Regions from separate parts of the Homo sapiens genome. Here regions 2 and 3 are each reported to be linked to region 1. The links are microRNA targets in miRTarBase. Many come from high-throughput screens and were not tested one by one. Region 1 holds a microRNA gene; each other region holds the end of a gene's coding sequence.

Region 1 (7,112 bases):
TCTCCTTGCTGCAGCCATGGAGTGAGTAACCGCTTACCTCTTCTCCAACTGCCTTTCCCGCCCTTTCGCAGCTCGTGGCCCTCTTTAGGGAGCCCTGGGGGGTGGGGAGTCGCGAGCGGGGAATCACGGTCGCGCAGGCGCAGAAGTAGTACGGTGGGCCGAAGGCGCGCGGCTGCGCATGCGCACTGGGCCCGGGGCCGGGTGGGAGAGTTCTAGACTCGATGTTTGTCAGCCCGCGTGCAGCTGGGCCTGAGCACTCCAGGGGAGGGTGTGTTTTTTTTTTTTCTAAACGATTCTTCGTGCTTGGTTGTTCCTGCGCAGTAGCCCACCAGTGCCCCGTAGTGAAAGAGCTGCGGACCCTGAATGGCCGCACATGCGCATTGATCCCCAAGAGGGCGGAGGTGTAAAGGCAATTGGACCGCTCGGGCGACGTAGCATGCGCCTTGGCCCTCGGCGCAGAGCCGCGTGTGGACGGGTGGCGTTCGGGTAGCCGTTCTCCGCGTGCCCCCTCTACCCTCCTCCACCCTCCCTGCCCCACGTTGCTCTGGCTCACAGCCCAGCTTCCTTCCTTTTAAACCAGGCACCTGCTGAGGCGGGGACTGGCTTAGATTGACAGGGCAGAAGGCGGGACCCAGAGGCAACCCTCTAAGTGGGTGGGGATAGAACCACTGTCGTCACGATGGGTGGGATTTCGGAAGCACATTGTGAGAAGGGGCGGGGCTAAACCAACCGTTAGTTGAGGGGTGGGGTTTCGATGTGACAAAGAGGCGGGGCCTCTGGGGAATCGGGGGAGGGGCGGAGCTAAATAAACAATGAGGGGCGGGGCTTGGAGGGGCAGCGGCAGAGCGAGGAGTGGGATTTGAGTGGATAACATTGCTGAAGGGCTGCGGCCTGGGGCAGTTCCCCTGGGAACTGGTTTGGGATGGAAGCTAGGAAGGCAGTGGGGCCAAAAGGAAATATTTTAGAGGAAGGGGCGTGGCTGGAAGAAAATGTCCCTGGGATTGAGTTTTTCCTTGAGGCGAAATATTCTGAGGTGGATGGGAGGGGCCTAAGGTAATTCCCCTGGGAGACCTTTAGGTTTTTTTTTTCTGTATTGGGGGAAGGGGTGGGGCATCGGTCCTACTTTAGGACCTAAAGAAATTCCCTTGGGAGTGGGTGGGGCTCAGAGATTTGGGTAAAGAAAGGGCAAATTTAGAATTCGGAGAGGCTGAGGCTTAGTGTTCTAAACGGTGGTTGGAAGGGGGAGGGAGGAGCCTCATGGACGTGCCTGGGGGTGTGGCTTGGCTTCCCCTTGATTTTGGCCGGTGGATGACGCTGTCCTGACCACACCCACTCTTGTCTCACGCGTGTAGGTCTTCCACTTTCGCCTTGGTGCCTGTCTTCGCCCACCTGAGCATCCTCCAGAGCCTCGTGCCAGCTGCTGGTGCAGCCTCTCCTGTTGCCATCAGTGCCCAGCACCTGTGCTACAGCCATGTCACTCCTGGCGACCCTGGGGCTGGAGCTGGACAGGGCCCTGCTCCCAGCTAGTGGGCTGGGATGGCTCGTAGACTATGGGAAACTCCCCCCGGCCCCTGCCCCCCTGGCTCCCTATGAGGTCCTTGGGGGAGCCCTGGAGGGCGGGCTTCCAGTGGGGGGAGAGCCCCTGGCAGGTAAGGGCAGGTGGAAGGTGGAGCTGGGGAGTGGAGGGCAGGGGAAGATGGGGGAGGAAGAACTCATCCATGTATTCAATAAATATTGAGTGCCTACAATGTGCCAGGCACTGTTTTAGGTGCTGAGGATACGGCTGGGAACAAGAAGAACATGGTCTGTGCCTTCCAGCAGCTCACACTGTGGGGAGTAGACCAGAGATAAATTAAATGAGAGTGTATTGGAATAAGTCAAAAACACCTAGCAGCTGAGCTACAAAATGACAAAGGGGACCTAATATAGAATGGGTAGCCAGAAAACCTTCTCCAAGTAGGTAACATGTTGACTGAGGCATAAATGATGGGAAGGAAGCCAGGCATGATGGCCTGTAATCCCAGCACTTTGGGAGGCCAAGCGGGGAGAATTGCTTTAGTCCAGGAGTTCAGGACGTGGGCAACATAGCGAGACCTCATATCTATAGGAAAAAAAAAATTAGCCAGGCATGGTGGCTCACGCTTGTAGTCACAGCTACTTGGGAGGCTGAGGTGGGAGGATCGCTTGAGCCTGGGAGGTCTAGGCTGCAGTGAGCCAAGATGATGCCACTGCACTGCAGCCTGGGCAACAGAGTGAAACCCTATCCCTTAAAATAAAAAAAAAGTAGGGAAGGAATGAGGAAAACACCCAAGGGAAGAGCATTTTAGTTGGAGGGAACTGTATATGCAGAAGCCCTCAGGAGGCAGGAATCATTTCATTCATTACTGTATCCCAAATGCTTGGCACATAGTGGGTTTTCAATAATTAATGAGTAAAGATGAAACAAGGCATATGTGCGTGTGTATCTGTGTGTGTAATGTGATCTAGTTTGCCTTTTAAAAAGAGAGAATAGAGACACCACAGATACAGAGTACTCGGTAAAGGAGATGTTGGAATGGTTGAAGAAATGCTTGGTTGACTGTTGCTTGAGTCATTGGTTGGTTGGCTGGTTCTTTTTTTCTTTTTTAATTTTTTTTTTCTCCTGGACCCTCTTATGGGTTAAGACTGATTCTTTCATTGGCTAATTTGTTGGGTTTTGGTTAACTGGTTCATTGGTTGATTAATGGGTTGATTGGTTGGTTGACTGATTTATTTGGTTGGTTGACCGATTCCCTGATTGATTGGTCGACTAGTTCATTGGTTGGTTGGTTGGTTGGTTGGTTGACTGGGTGGTTAGATGGTTGATTGTTGGTTGGTTCGTTGACTGGTTTATTGGTTTCTTCACTGGTTTGTTGGTTTATTGACTGGTTTGATGATTCAGTGGTTAGTTGTTTTACTGAATGAATGGGACAGATGCACCTGAATGAGACGTGAGTCAGCACCCAACTACGCAGAAGACCAGCAACTCAGGGAATTTTGTGTCCCTCCCCACTTTAATCCCAGGTGATGGCTTCTCTGACTGGATGACTGAGCGAGTTGATTTCACAGCTCTCCTCCCTCTGGAGCCTCCCTTACCCCCCGGCACCCTCCCCCAACCTTCCCCAACCCCACCTGACCTGGAAGCTATGGCCTCCCTCCTCAAGAAGGAGCTGGAACAGATGGAAGACTTCTTCCTAGATGCCCCGCCCCTCCCACCACCCTCCCCGCCGCCACTACCACCACCACCACTACCACCAGCCCCCTCCCTCCCCCTGTCCCTCCCCTCCTTTGACCTCCCCCAGCCCCCTGTCTTGGATACTCTGGACTTGCTGGCCATCTACTGCCGCAACGAGGCCGGGCAGGAGGAAGTGGGGATGCCGCCTCTGCCCCCGCCACAGCAGCCCCCTCCTCCTTCTCCACCTCAACCTTCTCGCCTGGCCCCCTACCCACATCCTGCCACCACCCGAGGGGACCGCAAGCAAAAGAAGAGAGACCAGAACAAGTCGGCGGCTCTGAGGTACCGCCAGCGGAAGCGGGCAGAGGGTGAGGCCCTGGAGGGCGAGTGCCAGGGGCTGGAGGCACGGAATCGCGAGCTGAAGGAACGGGCAGAGTCCGTGGAGCGCGAGATCCAGTACGTCAAGGACCTGCTCATCGAGGTTTACAAGGCCCGGAGCCAGAGGACCCGTAGCTGCTAGAAGGGCAGGGGTGTGGCTTCTGGGGGCTGGTCTTCAGCTCTGGCGCCTTCATCCCCCTGCCTCTACCTTCATTCCAAACCCCTCTCGGCCGGGTGCAGTGGCTTATGCTTGTAATCCCAGCACTTTGGGAGGCCAAGGCAGGAGGATCGTTTGAGGCCAGGAGGTCAATACCAGCCTGGGCAACATAGTAAGACCCTGTCTCTATTAAAAAAAAAAAATCAACCCTTCTTCCCCACCAAACCACCCAACTCCTCTCTACTCTTATCCTTTTATCCTCTGTCTCTGCTTATCACCTCTCTTGCGTATTTCTGGATCTCCTTCCCTCCTTTCTCGTCCAAATCATGAAATGTTTGGCCTTAGTCAATGTCTATGCCCGTCACATAACAGCCGAGGCACCGAGGCCCACAGGGAAGCAGCTGGGAGCTTGGAAACCTGGTCTCTTGAATTTCAAACCTGGTTTCTTACAGGTGGTTGTCTGGGGTGGGTGGAGTGGCGACAGGATAGAGCTGAAGGACTATGCAAATGAGGAAGTAAGTCAGGGCGGGCTTTGAGAAGGGGACCCATATCCTACAGGCAAAAAGCAGGCTAGGTGACCTTGGGACACTACGCTAAGGGAGGGAGGCTAAAGGCGGCCAGGTTTGCAGTGCGGGAAGATGAGCAGGCCAGTGGGAGGAGGGGCAGGGCAGGGCTGTAGTTGGTGACTGGGTGTTCATTTTAGCTCTAAGAAAAAAAATCAGTGTTTCGTGAAGGTGTTGGAGAGGGGCTGTGTCTGGGTGAGGGATGGCGGGGTACTGATTTTTTTGGGAGGTTATGAGCAAAAATAAAACGAAACATTTCCTCTGGCTTGTGCATCTTGTCTTTGAGAGAAGCAGCTGGGGAGAGGCGGCCTTGTAATCTCAGCACTTTGAGAGGCTGAGGCGGGCAGATCACCTGAGGTCAGGAGTTCAGGACCAGCCTGACCAACAAGGTGAAACCCCATCTCTACTGAAAATACAAAATTAGCTGGGTGTGGTGGCGTGTGCCTGTAATCCCGGCAACTTGGGAGGCTGAGGCAGGAGACTCGCTTGAGCCAAGGAGACGGAGGTTGCAGTGAGCCAAGATTGTTCTATTGCACTCCAGTCTGGGAAACAAGATTGAAACGCTATCTCAAAAAAAAAAAAAAAAAAAAAGGGGGGGGGAGGTGGGGAGGGCCGGGCGTGGTGACTCACGCCTGTAATCCCAGCACTTTGGGAGGCTGAGGTGGGCAGATCACGAGGTCAGGAGATTGAGACCATCCTGGCTAACACGGTGAAACCCTGTCTTTACTAAAAATATGAAAAATTAGCCGGGTGTGGTGGCGGGCGCCTGTGGTCCCAGCTACTCGGGAGGCTGAGGCAGGAGAATCACTTCAACCTAGGAGGCAGAGCTTGCAGTGAGCCTAGATTGCGCCACTGCACTCCAGCCTGGGCGACAGAGCAATACTCCATCTCAAAAAAAAAAGAAAAAGACAGTAATAAAGATAACAGGGTGGGTGCAGTGGCTCACGCCTGCAATCCCAGCACTTTGGGAGGCTTTGCCAGGTGAATTGCTTGAGCCCAGAAGGTGGAAATCAGCCTGGATAACATAATGAGACCTCATCTCTACAAAAAATAATTTTTAAGAAAATGGCTGGGTGCTGTGGCTTACGCTTGTAATCCCAGCACTTTGGGAGGCCAAGGTGGGTGGATCACCTGAGGTCAGGAGTTCGAGACCAGCCTGACTAACATGGTGAAACCCTGTTTCTACTAAAAATACAAAATTAGCCAGGCATGGTGGTGGGCGCCTGTAATCCCAGCTACTTGGGAGGCTCAGGCAGGAGAATCCCCTAAACCTGGGAGGCGGAGGTTGCAGTGAGCTGAGATCGCACCATTGCATTCCAGCCTCAGCAACAAGAGTGGAACTCCATCTCAAAAAAAAAAAAAGAAAAAAAATTAGTGGGTGAGGTGGTGTGCACCTGTAGTCCTACATACTTGGGAGGCTGAGGCAGGAGGATCGCTTGAGGCCAGAAGTTGGGGACCAGCCTTGGCAACATAGCAAGATGCTGTCTCTACAAAAAAAAAATTAGGTGGGGCCGGGCGCCTTGGCTCAACGTCTGTAATCCCAGCACTTTGGGAGGCCGAGGCGGGCGAATCATTTGAGGTCAGGAGTTCAAGACCAGCCTGGCCAGCATGGTGAAACCTCATCTACTAAAAATACAAAAAAAATTAGCCAGGCATGGTGGCGCATGCCTGTAGTCCCAGCTACCTGGGAGGCTGAGGCAGGAGAATGGCTTGAACCCAGGAGGCAGAGGTTGCAGTGAGCTGAGATCACACCATTACACTCCAGCCTGGGCAACAGAGCAAGGCTCTGTCTCAAAAAAAAAAAAAAAAGAAAAGAAAAAGAAAAGAAAGAAAATTAGCTGGGCGTGGTGGCATGAACCTGTAGTCTGTAGTTCCAGGTACTCAGGAGGCTGAGGCGGGGGGATTGCTTGAACCCAAAGGTTGAGGCTGCAGTGAGCCATGTTTGTGCCATTGCACTCCAGCCTGGGTGACAAAGCAAGAACCTGTTAAAAAAAAAAAAAAAAAGACTGGGCACAGTGGCTCATGCCTGTAATCCCAGCACTTTGGGAGGCTGAGGTGGGTGGATCACGAGGTCAAGCAATGGAGACCATCCTGGCCAACATGGTGAAACCCCGTCTCTATGAAAAATACAAAAATTAGCTGGGCATGGTGGTGCACACTTGTGGTCCCAGCTACTCAGGAGGCTGAGGCAGGAGAATTGCTTGAACTCAGGAGGCAGAGGTTGCATTGAGCCGAGATCGTGCCACTGCACTCCAGCCTGGGCAACAGAGCAAGACTGTCTCAAAAAATAATAATAAATAAATACATAAATAAAAGAAAAAAGAAAAAAAAAGTTCTCCACCCAGCAGCAAAGCATCTTTCTTTGCAACAGTGCGGAATTTTACCGGAGCCTTGCGTGTGTGGACAACAGCGACAGTGAAGAAATCCCCCCACTTTTCCGGCCCAGGTGTAGTGGCTGACCCCTGTAATCCCTACACTTTGGGAGGCCAAAGTGGGAGGATCGTTTGAGCCCAGGAGCTTGAGAACAACCTGGGCAACATAGCACGACCCTGTCTCTACAAAAAGTTAAAAAAAACTAACAACAAAAAAGAAATCCTCCCGCTTTTTTGCATTCCAGGAGATGGCTTACTGAGAAGAACCACCCTTCCGTATATGACTTAGATAAGACTTGAGGATGAACCCCTTGTCTAAGACAAGGGCAGACATAGACCCTCCAAATTCCCATTTCGTTGTCTCGTACATGATTAACTGAACTGTTTTGTCCCCAGTGATCAATTGAAACAAAATGCTTGTTTAACCTAACTTACTCTCCTCACTGCCA
Region 2 (7,112 bases), not on the chromosome of region 1:
TGTTGTCATTGCTGAGGTCGATCTCGTAGTTGTTCAGTTGTGCTCTTTTTGCTGTCTTGTGAGTCTTAGCCAGTGATCCAGCTGCCCAAGGACAGGGCCTCCAGAGGGCCTAGCGCCCTCCTGGTACCAAGCGTGTGCTCCTGGCCTGTGTGACAGTGTCTTTCCCGAAGCAGTGAAATGAGAAATTCTGCAAGTGGCCACCCGGAAGATCAGTCTGTAGCTCTTGGGCCTGGATTTCTACTATGTTAGTGAGTGTAGGAATATACTGTGTCTTTAATGGATGAAAATTCAATGTATGCTGTGAATTTGTTGGTTTGAAACATTGAAATTTTTCATTAGACAATGTTTACATACCTCACCTGAAGAACCTTTGAGAGTGTATATATAAAATTTTAAAATATATTAAGTTGCTTTAAAACAATATGTATAGCTATAAAAGTTGGAGTTATTTTAACTTTGAATATGTACCAAGTCTCTTAAATATTGAAATCTTGTAGACTTCTTGTGCTTCTGTGTTTTGCTTTCCTATCAGGCCATGTAGGAAACTGTGTTCTTGTTATTGGTAGAGGGGCCCTCACTGAAATCCAAGCTTGGAAGGATGTCCTGTGTTGTTTCAGATTCTCTTGTTTGGTTTTGAAGGATGCGGTGTGGAGCCAGAGGATGTGTGGGAGGGGTTTCTCTAACACTGACTTCTATTCCATGAGCTTTTTCAAGGCGCTTATTTTATGGCAGCGTATTAAACTTCTTTGATATTCAAGTGTGTCTGTGTAGTCACTGAAGAGGGCACAGAACGCCTTGAAGCCGGGCATTCAACTTGCAGCCTAAGGCAAAATTGATGAGTTGCCAGAAGGAACCACAAAGCAATACTTCCACCAAGTGTCAGGGCTTAGAGAAACCTTGTTTGCTAATGTAAGTAATAAATCATTTTGTGAGTTCTGCCTAACTTCAGGGAAAAGAAAAGGCAATGGAGGAATCCTTGAGATTCCCATGGCAGGGTTGGAAAGGTGCCAGCATTTCATCCTGAGGGGCAGGGAGCAATGGAGGGCAAACTCCTGACCTCAGGCTAGCCACTGGGAAGTGTGCAGGCCACAGGCCAGGGCTGCCCCAGCTCTCAATGCCCTTGTTGGAGTATGGCAGAAAAAGTCCTTCGATTTGCTAGCCTCATGAGTTTTTCATTATATTCTTTCAACTCTGCTTGAAGTGGGTCAGCGTAAGGGCCCACAAGCGGCTCATCTGACTGTGCCATCACTGTGCAGAACCACATCCAGCAAAAATAACCCCACAGCTGACTGCCAGGCCACCCCTCTGAATCTGAAGTTGGAAGATTACCTCATTCCAGATTAGTTGTTTTCATTGTTAAGATAGACCTCTTTTCCTCCAGTAGTCATCCTGTAGTGGAGTAATGAAAATACTGACCCAAGAGGTGCAGACTGGCTGCCTTGGGGTGAGGGGACATCTCAAAAATTAACTCTGAGGGCTTTGGGCTTAGGGATGATAGAGATGTGTCTAGAGATGTGTCATCACCAATCTCAGGAAAACTTGGCAGCTCTAGTAATCAGGATGTCGCCCATTGGAAGTCTGGGCACTGCTTTTTGGCCTCCACCCTCCCAACCAAGCCCGGCTGTGCCCATTCCCTTGGCTGGGGATTTCCCTTTAGCAGTGAAATTTGCCACTGATTTTACTTTAACTCAGAAATAGCAAACTGGTGGCCTACAGATGTGTTTTCTTTAGCCTAGTGTTTAAAAAAATACTTCGTGAGCTTTTTTTTACATAAAGATTGAGAGTTCTGACTTTTGTAAAAAAATTAAAAAGATGAAGATTTGACAGAATTAACTCACGGTAAGAGTCAGCTGGCATGAGATTGGAAAACGTGCCTTTCAGGTCACCACAGCCCCTGACTGTCAGTTCCCATTTGTCACTGTTTCTTCACGGCAGGGGAATGGGTCTGTGTACGTGCAGCCTTATCAGAAGTGACAGCCAGGTGACTGACAGGTAACCAACTGACCTTGTGAGACGGGAGCATCCAACCCCATTGGAACGCATTTTCTCTCCTGCACACTGTTCGTTACATTTCCTCCAAAATCCCTGACTTTTTTGAAGGCACTGAAGTTATATCAAGTGGCCACTTTCAAGATGACCCATGTGCTGTTAAGGTGTGGCTTGTGTGACCATTGCCCTGGCCCAATTTTCCACAGAAACCTGTCCATGGCGCTGGCTCATGGTCCCGGCTCAGGCTTCCCTTTAGTGTCAGTGACCCTGCCCAGCCTGCCTGCCCAGGCCTGGCCTTACCCAGACATCCATCCTGAGTGAGTGAGTCCTATAAAATCGTGCTTGCAGTGTTCTCATCTGAATGGTGATGGAGCCACTGCAGACGTATGTGTGTGTGCCTGCTTTCTCCACCAATTTCTAAGAGCCACTGTGCTGGGGACAGGAAAGTGAACCTCACAGGGCATCTGAGAAGTCACACTATATAGATTGCCCCGATGGCTCCGAAACCCTTAGAGCCAAATTAAAGATGGGTGTGGCTCTGTGCACAAACTTACAGAATGTCCATGTCACGGCAATTACTTGAAGGGAGATGAGGATGAGCAGCCTCCCCAGCTCGGCCGTGCACTGACAGACCCCGGGGGGGTGTCCCCCAGCCCTCTCCCAGGACCCCCTCCTTCAGGAGGAATGGACTTCAGGAAAAGCAGGGAGTTCCAGGGACAGACATCCTACGTGTGTAGCCCCTTGGAGCCATCCCTGGATGATGGCCCATATGCGATCAGCCCAGAAGCCCTAGGAGAGAATGCCAGCAGCACCCGGCCCGCCCTTGGTGGAGAAAAAGAGACCAACAAGGCAGAGTGACTCAATGTCATGTTCACATGGAAGACAACAGACAATATCGACATAGTCTAAAACAATACTTCCAGGGCAGGTGCAGCTCCCTCATGGGCCTGTTCTAAACCAGCCTCTAGGAGTTGATCCAAACAAGACGACTACAGAAACCCCCAACAAAACGTGCCACGACCACATAGCATCTGAAAGGCAAAACAAGACGCTGGATGTTGACTTTAACATATAAAAATACTGTAACAAAATGAAATACAAATATATATTAGAATCTGTAAGTATTCTGTATAAAGAGATACTTTTGCGGTTAGGCTACCAGCAGGCAAAGAGGAGACAAAGTCCAGCCTTTTCCACTTCCTGACACCTTCACCGGGAGCCCCGGCCCTGTTGCCAGTGGTGTTGCAAGGCCACAGCTCCCTCCGGACGCACCCTGCTGTATCTCTTCATGCCTAAAATGCAGAGCGAACTAGGGGTCTTCACAAAGGGGGACAAGATGTGGAGAGAGGACTTCTCAGAGGGGTGATTTTGCAGTAGCCACCTTCCGGACTTTCAAGCGGAGTGTGAATAGGCAACGTGAGTGCTGACTCAGGTCCTTAGCAACTCGCTGGCTGATGGCCAAGTTGGAGAAAAAGTTGATCCTGGGGCACACAGCTCTCACATCATCTCATGGTGGATTCCAATCCTCAGACTGCACTGAGGTCAGCGCTGCTGTGCTAGGAGGCTGGGCCATGTGGTGGGGCCGGTCAGGGGAGCCTTAAGCTCACATGGTGCTCCCTAGGAACAAACATGCCAGCCGCTCACCTCCCAGCCCCATGGCGCCAGGTGAGGGGTGAGCATCACCTGTCTACAGGTGTCCTTTCCACCTCCTGCAGAATGAAGAGGCCTCCTGCCAGCCAGTGCCCTTCAAGCCTGGGAATTGGCTTCTCCAGGGTGGTGGGGAATGGTGGTGGCCAGGAAAGCTATCTTTCTCAGGGTTGGTGAGTCCCAGAGCACCTTTCTTCCAGGGAAGAGGCAAGCTAGCTGCCCTTGAGCTTTTCTGCCCTATCCAGCCCGGTGCAGATGCTCTGCAGGGTCCCACGGTGGCCTGGAAACTCAGAGAGGGATGCCATGTGGGCCTGGGAGAAGCCCCATGAGGCCCAGGCTGCAGTCTACTTGGGGGTGGGGGCGGGCATTGTGGCCTTGCTCAGAGCTCCAAGCAAGTAGATCCCAGCCCCCTGGTGAGGGGCAGATCCTGCCATGAGGACACCTGCCACATTGGGCAGGGCACTGCCCTCTTCCCATCACAGGGACCCCAGGACTCACAGTTGCTAGATTGAGTCCCCATGGCATGAGACATGCCAGGCACCTCTACCCCAGTTCTAGCCTTCTAATCAGCATCAAGGGCTCCCCTCACTGCCCTGGGCAGGGGACAGGGACACAATGCCACTCTGAGCCTCACCTGAACATACACCCAGCCATGCCTCCTGGTCACAGATGGAGGGAGCCAGGGCAGGGACATGCTCACCCCCGTTGCCCACCAGAACCCCCGGGGGTGTGCCCTCTTGGTGAGCCCTCTGGGGAAGGAGAGTGCAACTTTGCCTCCCTTTAGCCCATTCACAGTTTGGCCTCACAAACCATCTTTCTACATTTTCACTGTGTATGGAAGAGAAGACAACGTGGGCAGGCAATCGTATATTCAGGGCCTCTTCTTCTTCCACCACTGGCTCCTTCGTTGCCAGCAACTCCCTGGCCTGGGCCGCTGTCTGTGGCTGGAGCCCCCACTCAGCTCAACTCTTCCCGGGCATCCTGGTCATTCCTGCGATGCTCTGGGATGAGTTCACATCTGTCCATTAGGCCAGAACGTCCACAATCCCCAGCCCCGGGTTAGGCACATAAATACTTTTGATGTGATCAATGTAGATAGATAGATAGATAGATAGGTCTTCTAACTCCTCTGGCCTCCCAAGACCACAGTGGGGGAGTCTGCACTGTTCCTTTAGTCATCCCGCCCCCCACCTCTGGCCATTTTATAGCTGAAGAACCCAAGGCCCAGGTGGGGAGAAGTTTGCCCCGAGTGATAGAGCCAGCAGGGACTTCCCAATGCCTGGAGCACTGTCCCTTCCACTGCTCCCTACTGGCCTGCGGTGTGAAGGACTCTGAACCAGCTGCTCCCAGGTCAAGCACCCTGGCCCAGACCCTCACACCCAGTCCCTCTACCAATAGGTCACCGACAGCTTGTGGCTGACTGGTGGCTGGGGAAGCCCAGGACCAATACTCCTACTGTGGCCAGTGTCTGGAGGCAGATGATGTTTGTTTATCTAGAGCAAAGAACCCTCTGCCCTCTTTAGTGGGGTCTGCCACCCTGAGCAGCCCCTGTGACTGTTTCCTCCACATAAGCCCTCGCAGCTACAGTAGTCATGCTAGAACTTTAGGATTCAGAGGCCTGGTCCTAAGAACCACCTCCACCCACAGCCTCGTTCCCAAGCCGTGGCTGCAGAGCTGCCAGTCAGCCCAGGGGGCAAGGGTCCGACCCTCCCTGGCCAGCAGGAGGCGGCACCCCCGCTCCAGAGCCTGGCCTACCACCAGCAGATTCTGTAGCAGCAGAATGAACCAGGCTGGCTTCCCGGGGAGGCTGACAGTACTTCATGGTTGCCCGCAGAGGGGTAAGAGGCTTCTGGGGCCACAGACCCAGTTCCAAGCCAGCCTGGGCCACAGGCCAAAGGGAAGGGTTGGTTTGGAAGGCTGTCATTTTTCTTCTCCAGATTCAGATAGCAGGTAAGGAGGGGTGTCATCGTTCTGCACTTCTTGGCCTGACCTCACGCACACATTCACTCAACAAATATTTATTAAGCGCCTATTTGTGCAAGGCACTTCCGGAGAGGGCAGCCCGCAGCTCAGGCCTCGCCCACCCCCGCTGCCCCCAGCTATGGCGCAATTTGCTTTTAAAAGGCTGCTCTGGCACCACCCCACCCAGGAGGGCCCAGCTGCCCAGGAGCCGTCCTGTGATGACCTGCACCCCAGCCCAGCTGCTGGCGACTGTCTCCGCTGCTGCAGCGGCTGGGGCCCCTTGCCCGCCCTCACCGGCCTGTCCACGCCCAGCGCTATGCGCAGAGGGCACAGCCACACTTGGTGGGCTTTTCCACCTCCTCGGCAAAAGAGGTCCCATCGCTGCACTCAAAGGTGAACTTCCTCCGCTTCAGCCGAAGGCCCTGGCAGCAGCCCTGGCCTGGGCACGAGCCCCGGCACTCCACCCATGACAGGGGGCGCGTGGTCTGGCAGATGGCATAGCCCCTCTGGACCTGGTGAAAGTCCCGGACAGGGTCCCCCCGGCACTCGGACTCTGGATGGGACAGACACCAAGAGAAAGCCTCAGGGCACACCCATGGGTGAGCTGCTGCCTCCAGGGAGGCAGGAGGAAGAGGAGGAGGAGGGCAGCATCTGTGGGGTGGATCCTTTGGCTCTCAGACCCCACCTCTGTCCCCAGCATACTTCCGCCTCCCACTGACATGCACAAGCTTCCTCCCAGGGCCTACAGTCTGGTCCTAGCGTCAGGGCCCTCCAGGACAGACTGAACTGCTGGAGGGAGGGGGGGTCCCCATTGCTAGAGGCGTGCAAGAGAGGCTGGAGGCCCCGGGGGCAATAACATTATGAAAAGGATTCATGCTGGGGAGGGGATAGCCTAGGGGACCCTTAAGGTGCCTGAGTTCTGGGTTTCTCCAGCTTCTCCCTGCCCAGCCTTAGCAGTCCGGATTCCAGCAGAAGCCATCTTGGTCAAGCAGGCCAGGGAGGGCCTGGGAAGGAGTCCCCAACCCTCGGACTTCCTGCTGCCGCTCCCAGGTCATGAGGTGATGGGGCCAAGAGGCAGAGGTTGGGCCAGGAGCTGTTACCCTGGGTGGTCTCTTCTGCAAGGAGAGACCCCAGCCAGAAGAGGCGCATACCCTGAATAAGGGAGCTGCAGGGCAAACTGGGCCAGGAGAGATTGGGAGCAGTGCCCAGAGGGTGGAGGGACTCTGAAAGCCCCATAGTAGCCCATGGTACAGGGCTGGGAAGGGACAGAAGGGCTGCCGAGACTGGGAGGAAGAGTCAAATTGCTAAAGCAATTTGTGGGGGACCCTGGGGAGGGCACGTCAGGAGGGGGGCCCCTGACCTTGCTCACACAGCTCGCCCGAAAAGCCGGGGTCACACACACAGTGTGCCCCCTTGGTGCCTGAGGCCTGGCAGTGGCCATGCAGGCACTGCAGGCCTCTGCAGGGCTCTGCCAGGGCCCCGGCCTGGTTGCACAGTGCCCCCGAGTACCCATC
Region 3 (7,112 bases), not on the chromosome of region 1:
GGGGGCAAGGTGAGCAGGGTCTTTCCCGGTCCGCTGGGGAGGAAGCCGCGGGAGGCTGGGGCAGGGGGCGCGGCGGCGGAACTCGTGCCCGCTCGGTGCCAGCGTGGTCCTCCCCGCAGAGGTGAAGCGCGCCCACGGCACGCCACCGCCCGTGTCTCCCAAGCCGCCGCCGCCGCCCACAGCGCCCAAGCCCGTCAAGGCGGTCGCGGGGCTGCCTTCGGGCAGCGCCGGCCCTTCACCCGCACCCTCGCCCGCGCGACAGCCGCCCGCCGCCCTCGCCAAGCCGCCCGGTACGCCGCCCTCGCTGGGCGCCAGCCCCGCCAAGCCCCCGTCCCCCGGCGCGCCCGCGCTGCACGTGCCCGCCAAGCCCCCGCGAGCCGCCGCCGCCGCCGCCGCCGCCGCCGCCGCGCCCCCCGCCCCGCCCGAAGGCGCCTCGCCAGGGGACAGCGCCCGGCAGAAACTGGAGGAGACAAGCGCGTGCCTGGCCGCGGCGCTGCAGGCGGTGGAGGAGAAGATCCGGCAGGAGGACGCGCAGGGCCCGCGGTAGGTGCGGGGCGGGGCCTGGCGGGCGGAGGGCGGGGCTCGGCAGAGATGGGCGGGGCTCGGCAGAGATGGGCGGGGCTCGGCAGAGATGGGCGGGGCTCGGCAGAGATGGGCGTGCCGTGAGCGGGGCTCCGCCGAGGTCGTCGTGCGGTAGGCGGAAGCCGACGGAGATGCGGGACGTGGGCGTGTCCTGGTCGGGGTGGGCGTGGCCAGACCCGCCCCGCCCACTCACGCCCCTTGCCCCGCGCCCCGCAGCGACTCGGCGGCGGAAAAGAGCACTGGCAGCATCCTGGACGACATCGGCAGCATGTTCGACGACCTGGCCGACCAGCTGGATGCCATGCTGGAGTGAACGCCGCCTGGCCGGGCCCTCCCGCGCCGCCCGGGCCCTCCCCGCACACTGACCTATACCTCAGGATGGGCGCGTCTGGGCGCGGCGCGAGCGGCCGGGCAGGGCCCTGCAGAAGCACAACTCCGGCCCCTGGACCCGGGCCGGGGCGCCCACCGGGGACCGCCTGGCCGGGGGCTCCAAGGGCTCTAGGCAGACCCTGCGCCCGCGGGTCCTCCCCACCTGCTGCTCCCCGTGCAATACCTGCTGGGCCTCCTGCCCGCGCGGGAGGGGAGGGCGCCCCGGGACCAGGGATGGGGCAGCGCACAGGCCCGGGCCCAGCACAGAACTGCCCATCGGGACGCCCGGCCAGCCGCTCGGGCGCAGCACAAGGGACAGGGGACCAAGGTCAGGGCCCCCCTGCCCCACCGCACCCCCAGAATATAAGCTATCAAGAGTATTAATTTATTGGGAATGAGCTGAGGCGGATTTCCCCAGAGAAACAAAAAGGTATAACTTTAACAAATATATATTTAAAGAAAGAAATATTATTGATTCTATAGAAAACCATTTACCAACTGAAAGGACACGAAGTCTAGCTCCGGACAAAAGCTGTTAGAGGCCCAGGCTGTCTGCCTGCGGTCCTTCCTCCGGCCAGAGTGGAGGCCCCAGGCTGCTAGCACAGGTGGAAGGCTGGGGCCCGGGGGCGGGTGCTCTGCCGGGGGCTCCTCCGTGCTTCTCTCCTAAGTTCTCTGCGCCCCAAGAACTCGAGGTTGTGCCTTGCTCTCGGCGGCCGTGTCCTCCTCCTGGCGTGGCTGCGTCCCAGGGCGCGGGTGGGTTTGGTGAATGTGGGTGTGTCAGCGTGGCAGCCACGTGGAAGCAGGGCATGTAGCAGGCCAGGCCACGGGCTTGCAGCTCCTCTGAGGGTGTGCCTGGCCCCCTCTCCAGGGGCTGTGCAGGCAGCCCATCCACCCCAGTGGAGTTCCCACGGACGCTTCTGCTCATGGTCCAAGGCTGTGTTGTGTGGTCATTCTCGCCCTCCCTTTTCCTCTCTCCTCCTGCCCCCTCCAAGAAGTACTGACTGGTCTCCTCTATCGTGTTTGCTGATCCACAGTGTTGGGCACAACTTTGACGTTTCTTAAAAAAAAAATTTAAAAAATGCCGAAAACCAGCGATTGTGGTGTGGGGCGGGTGGAGGCGGCTGGCGGAGGTGGCGTCCCGGCGTGCAGGGCCCCTTCCTGCTGTCTCACCCCGTGTTTCCCTGCGAGTGGACGTGCCCAGCTGTCCCCCCAGGCCTCTCCTCAGAGGGCGGCACAGGCTGGGCTCCAGCAGGTGGGCAGGGGAGGTCTGGGCAAGGCGCTGCCGTCGGCTGTCAATAAACAGCAGGAAACAGAGGTGCCTGGCTCACTTTTTGGGGGCACATGTGTTGGGGGAGATGGGACTGGAGGCCAGCAGCTTGGGTGTGACGAGTTGCCTCCTAGCAGGGAGGGGAGGCCCCGGAGTGGGCCGAAGTCCTGGGGTCCACCAAAGGAAACTGCCCCATGCCCCCCCACTCACAGCAGCCAGTGCCTGTGCACACCAACCTCAAGGCCACACACAGCCCCCTTGTCCCGAGGAGCTGTCCCCACTCACAGCCACAGTCTGTGGAGCATTTATTTCAACCAGGAGGTAACCAAATCTACATACAGTCTAAAAACGGTAGAAAAGGTGAGTAAAAAGGCCCTCGCTCCATCTAGGGTGGGGATGGAGGGTGGGGATGGAGGGTGGGCCGGGGCAAGCGTCGTACCTGGCACCCAGAGAGGGGCTGGGCAGCAAGGACAGTGCCGAGTAGAGGGAGGCTCGCCGAGCATGGGACGGGGAGGGCACTGCCCGGCTGCCAGAGCCTGTCCACCTATGCCCACGGGGCAGGCAGAAACCCCGAGACCACCCCATGTGGCCAGCCTGGCTCAGAAAGGTCCAGGGCTGGTTCAGGGGAAACCACAGCCTGGCCTGGATCCTGTTAGCAAGTCCAAACCTGCAGAGAAAGGGCTGCTTCACCAGGATGTCCTGCGGCCGGCTGCCCTGCCCCAGCCACACCTGCCACACGTACCTGCCCTCCACCACTTTGTGCTGGGGCTGCCAGCTCCTCGTCCCCACCCCCGCTCCATCCTGTGCAGCCCCTTTGAATGGCCTGAGCCACGGGCACTGACCTTCACAGTGCTATCCACAGCCCCTGAGAAGAGTCGGCCCCGGGACACAGCCAGCGCGGTGACACTGCCCTGGTGACGCAGCAGGGTCTGCGTGCAGATCATGTTGTCCATACTCCAGACCTGGGGGCACATGGGACGTGAGGGCCCGCCGGAGCTCAGCTGCCAGCCCTCTGAGCCTCCTGCCACCGCTGGGCCAGCACGCACCCTGAGGGACCGGTCGTAGGATGCACTGAAGACTTTGGTCTGGTCTGGCGTCGAGATGACCGCCAGGGCATACACGGTGCCCACGTGGCCCGTGAGGGTCCGCACCTGCTCCTTGGACTCAATGTCCCACACCTGGGAGGGGTGGGCACAGGCAGGTCAAAGACACTGAGCAAGGCGGGGGAGACGGGGCCACAGTCTGGCCTTGCACCCAGATGCCCAGGCCTTACGTGGATGAGGTTCTCGTAGGTGCCACAGACAATGTGGTGATTTGTCACAGCAATGGAGTAGACGCTGCCACCAGACGTCTGCAGGACGTGGATGCAGTCAAGGGTTCGGATGTCCCAGATCTATGAGTAATCGTGGGCCAGTTGGTCCCAGGCCAGGTGCTTCACCCCCAGGGCCCCCGCACCCCCAGGGCTTCAGCACTGCTGGGCAGCCCACCCACCCAGCCAGGGGATGTGCGAAGGTAGGAACAGGGCAGATGGAGCCCCAGGTGCTGGCCTGGGAAGTGCTGGTAGGAGGCAAGGCCCTGTGGCCACCAGGTGTGCCCAAGCGCACCTTGATTGTCTGGTAGGAGCCGCTGTACAGGTAGCTCTGGGCAGCCACCAGGGCCCGCACCCAGTGGTTGAGGCCTGTGAGCTCCTTCTTCAACTTCAGCTCAGTGCCCACGATGTCCCAGACCTGCAGGGATTGCTGCAACTGTGGGCTGGGCGGGCAAGGGACGCCTCAGTGACACACACGTAGGCACAGCCTCCACCCGTACCTTGATGGCCTTCAGGGAGCCGCTGAAGAGCACGTTGTGTGAGGAGACCAGCGTGCACACCGGGTTGTCATGGGCCCGGATGGTGTTCACCTTCTGCAGGTTCTGGATGTCCCACACCTGATTGGGGAAGGACCGGCAGCCTCAGGGCACCAAGCCCTGCCACCTGGAGTCTGGAGCCCAGACGGGGAGAAACACGTCCCTGGGGCACCTACAGACTGGGGCGGGCCTGGGCCGCCTCCTGCCCACCCGCCTGTAGGCCCCACTCACAATGATGGTGCAGTCTGCAGAGCCGCTGTAGAGTTTGCACCTGGGGAAGCAGAGACAATGTGTCAAGGTGGGAGAAGCTGTGTCCATGCTGACACCGCCCTGGCAGGGCCCGAGGTCCATGCCAGCCATCAGGAACCAGCAGCATGGCCCAGGGCCAAGGCCACTGCTGTGTCCTTAAGCGTCAGCCTATTTTCCAGTCTCCACATGGGAACCTTGGAAGGGGCGGGCCAGCCCCTGATGCCTGCCTGGAAAGCATTTGACAGCGAGCTGGGAGGTAATTACCCACCCGTCAGCCCTGAGTCAGTCCCAGGGCCGGCTGCTGGCAGTCAAGCTGCCGCCTCCTGAAAGCGAGCATCTCTCACGCACACGCTTACTTGCTCGCTCCCACAAAGCCTCACGATAGGAGACAGGAGGCAGGCGGGCCACCTGGAGGCAAGAAAGTGGCCAAGGTAGTTGCTCCGTAGTCTCTATGCCCTGGGCTTTGGCTGCAGGCAGGGGAGAGCTGAGCTCCTGCCTTCACCCCCTAAGGTCCCCCCTATCTTCTGGTTGCGCAAGGTGCACCTGGGCCAGGACAAGGTTCTGCTGGGAGGCTGGCTGCGCCAGGTATTGGGAACACACAACTTTGGAGATGGTGTAGGCCACACAAGGGCCCACACACTGCTACCCAGGAAACAGTGCTGCTCCGGGTGGAGGGTGCCCTATAGGTGGGGCACACACATAGCTACACAGGCTCGAGCTCATGGCTCACGGCCCACGGGGTGGCAGCGCCACGTCTCCTGTCCTGGGAATCACTGATCACACATGTGCCTGGACTCACCCCTGGATGCAGAGAGCCAGCACGATGCCATCATGGCCCTCCAGTGTCTTCTGACACTTGTAGGTGGTACATGTGTCCCACACCTGCAGAGACCAGGGCCACAGTGGGTCCCAGCAAGGTCAGCCCAGTGTCAAGGGGCAGCATGACAGGAATGAGTGAGGGAGCCCCGCCCATGGGAGAGGGCCCTGCCCAGAAGGTCCCACCCATAGGCAGGCTGGCAGTGCCAGGCATGTGGCAGTGCCCAGCCCAGCCAGGCTGCAGAGACTGAGGTAGGACCCTGCCCACCTTGATGGTCTTGTCAGAGGAGCCACTGAAGAGCAGGTCACCCATGGAGTAGACGCAGAGACACCACACAGGGCCCTGGTGGCCCACAAAGGTCCCTTTGCACTTGAAGATCTGCTGAGGGTCGTAGGCTGCAGAGATGGGAGCAGTGGGTGAAGGCCCAGTTGGGGCCCGGGGGGGAGGGTGGGCGGGAGCCACGGCGGGTCCATACTCACAGCCTAGGATGCCCATGTTCAGCCGCGCGTTGATGTGGGACAGCTCGTCCTGCAGGGCCAAGGGCAGGGCAGAGGGCAGGTGGGCAGGGCTGCTGTGGGGCCAGTGCAGCCTCTCTGCCCCTGCTGCCCTGGGCCAGGGGTGGGCAGGGGTGACAGCAGCCCCTGCCACACACAAGACCCCTGATCTTGACTAGTGTAGGCAAGGCCAGGGGAGGCCTCCCTGCCGGGGCCGCCGGCCTCCCCGGGTCTCACAACCCAGCCCCTCCAGCCCCGCCCGCTCACATTTAACATGGATGCGTCCCGCCGGAACTCCATGAGGTCCTCGCTGAGCTTGCTCTGGTTTTCGTCCAGGACGTCTGAGTAGCAGGAGGAGAGGGGGTGTCACTGGTGCCCGGAGCAGTGGCCAGGCCCCTGCCTGCCCCGGTGCCCACCCTCACCAAACTTGAGCTCCAGGCTCTTCTCTAGCTGGTCGATCTTCTCCGAGAGCTTTCCCAGCATGGAGCGCAGGAAGGCGATCTCCTGGTCCTTCTGGGCCAGAGCCACGTGCATCTCGTGGAAGCGGTCATCCGTCTGCTGCAGAAACTCCTTCAGGCCCTCGAAGCGGCAAGTCTCCAGGTGGGTCTCGTAAGTGTCCTGGTTCCCGATGAACGTGCACCTGCGGGGACAGGACAGCTGCCTGCCTGGCGGGTCCCTGCCGGTGCCTCCCCATCCCCAAGAATCCCCCTCAAATGCTCCAGCCCTGTGGCCGCTGCACCCCAGGTCCAGCTGCCCCCACCCACACCTGCCGTCCTGCCCCTCCTCCCCATCCAGCTACCCCCAGTCTGCTTCACAAGTGAGATCCCATCACGTCACCCCCGCAGAGCTCTTCAAGGGGTCCTCCCTTCCTGAGGATAAAACCCACGCTGCTTGGCAGCCTCCCTGCCCACCTCCCTGCCCTGAAGAACTGGGCTCCTGCCTCTCCTCCCACCCCCACCTCCCTCTCCAAAGCTCTCAACCCCAGCATTTGCTCAAATCCGCCCATGCTGGGCCGGCTGCGGGAGCGTCCACGCCCGCCTTCCTGGACGCCCTCGGCTCCCCCTCTGGGTTTCCAGGGCCTTGGGCCTCAGAGAGGATTACAGACCCCGGTGTGGCCCCAGCTCCGGCCTACCTCCCCGGGACCAGCAAGCGGGCAGCTCTCAGCGGAGCCTGTGGAGGGCCTGCGCCCACCCCGGCCCACCCCCGCCCGCCCCCCACTCACCCGTACTTGGAGTGGGGGCATTTGATGTGCTCGCACTCCTTGAGGTGGGCCTCCAGGTTCATCCTGAGCAGCGGGGGGCAGCTGGGGTTGTTGGGACACCGCACAGGCCTGTAGTCACAGCTGCCCTCGTGGTCCCTGTGCCAGGGCGGGATGCGGGGAGGCCTCAGCCAGAGCCCTGAGAAGCAGCCCCCAGGGAGGCAGAGGTGCCCAGGGAGGGGCACTTACTTCCGGGCGCTGAGCTTGATGGTGAAGGGGCACCCTCGGGGG

The links. The annotated mature microRNA hsa-miR-4751 reads AGAGGACCCGUAGCUGCUAGAAGG and lies in region 1 at 3,694-3,717, shown strand. An mRNA with a match to its seed (bases 2 to 7 or 8) in the 3' UTR can be bound and repressed. Matches are read on the target gene's strand: a 7mer-m8 pairs with bases 2 to 8, a 7mer-A1 pairs with bases 2 to 7 and ends in A, and an 8mer does both.
Region 2: miRTarBase lists SLIT1 as a target of hsa-miR-4751. Seed matches in the 3' UTR shown: 7mer-A1 at 4,070-4,076.
Region 3: miRTarBase lists CASKIN1 as a target of hsa-miR-4751. Seed matches in the 3' UTR shown: 7mer-m8 at 1,103-1,109.

What each region holds. Positions count from the first base shown.
Region 1 is chr19:49,929,380-49,936,491 of GRCh38, forward strand. MIR4751 (microRNA 4751) reads left to right here and starts at 3,685; the gene lies at 3,685-3,758. It overlaps NUP62 (nucleoporin 62), which reads right to left and starts at 125. Exons shown (of 3, transcript NM_016553.5): 1 at 1-125. It overlaps ATF5 (activating transcription factor 5), which reads left to right. Exons shown (of 3, transcript NM_001193646.2): 1 at 1-21; 2 at 1,353-1,649; 3 at 3,043-4,556. The coding sequence starts at 1,472. The coding sequence ends at 3,713. It also overlaps a transcript of IL4I1 not described here. RefSeq lists a silencer at 566-615.
Region 2 is chr10:96,995,200-97,002,311 of GRCh38, forward strand. It overlaps SLIT1 (slit guidance ligand 1), which reads right to left. Exons shown (of 37, transcript NM_003061.3): 36 at 6,959-7,112; 37 at 2,839-6,151. The coding sequence ends at 5,913. LCOR (ligand dependent nuclear receptor corepressor) reads left to right here. Exons shown (of 8, transcript NM_001346516.2): 8 at 1-757. Among named protein-coding and RNA genes, the nearest start is that of SLIT1-AS1, 100 kb to the right of the region's middle. RefSeq lists an enhancer at 6,746-7,112.
Region 3 is chr16:2,172,333-2,179,444 of GRCh38, reverse strand. It overlaps CASKIN1 (CASK interacting protein 1), which reads left to right. Exons shown (of 20, transcript NM_020764.4): 19 at 120-543; 20 at 799-2,265. The coding sequence ends at 895. It overlaps TRAF7 (TNF receptor associated factor 7), which reads right to left. Exons shown (of 21, transcript NM_032271.3): 8 at 7,071-7,112; 9 at 6,846-6,980; 10 at 6,046-6,263; 11 at 5,891-5,964; 12 at 5,609-5,657; 13 at 5,397-5,524; 14 at 5,112-5,194; 15 at 4,295-4,334; 16 at 4,028-4,144; 17 at 3,823-3,945; 18 at 3,492-3,611; 19 at 3,265-3,396; 20 at 3,061-3,180; 21 at 1,316-2,885. The coding sequence ends at 2,871. Among named protein-coding and RNA genes, the nearest start is that of TRAF7, 20 kb to the right of the region's middle. RefSeq lists an enhancer at 1,116-1,617.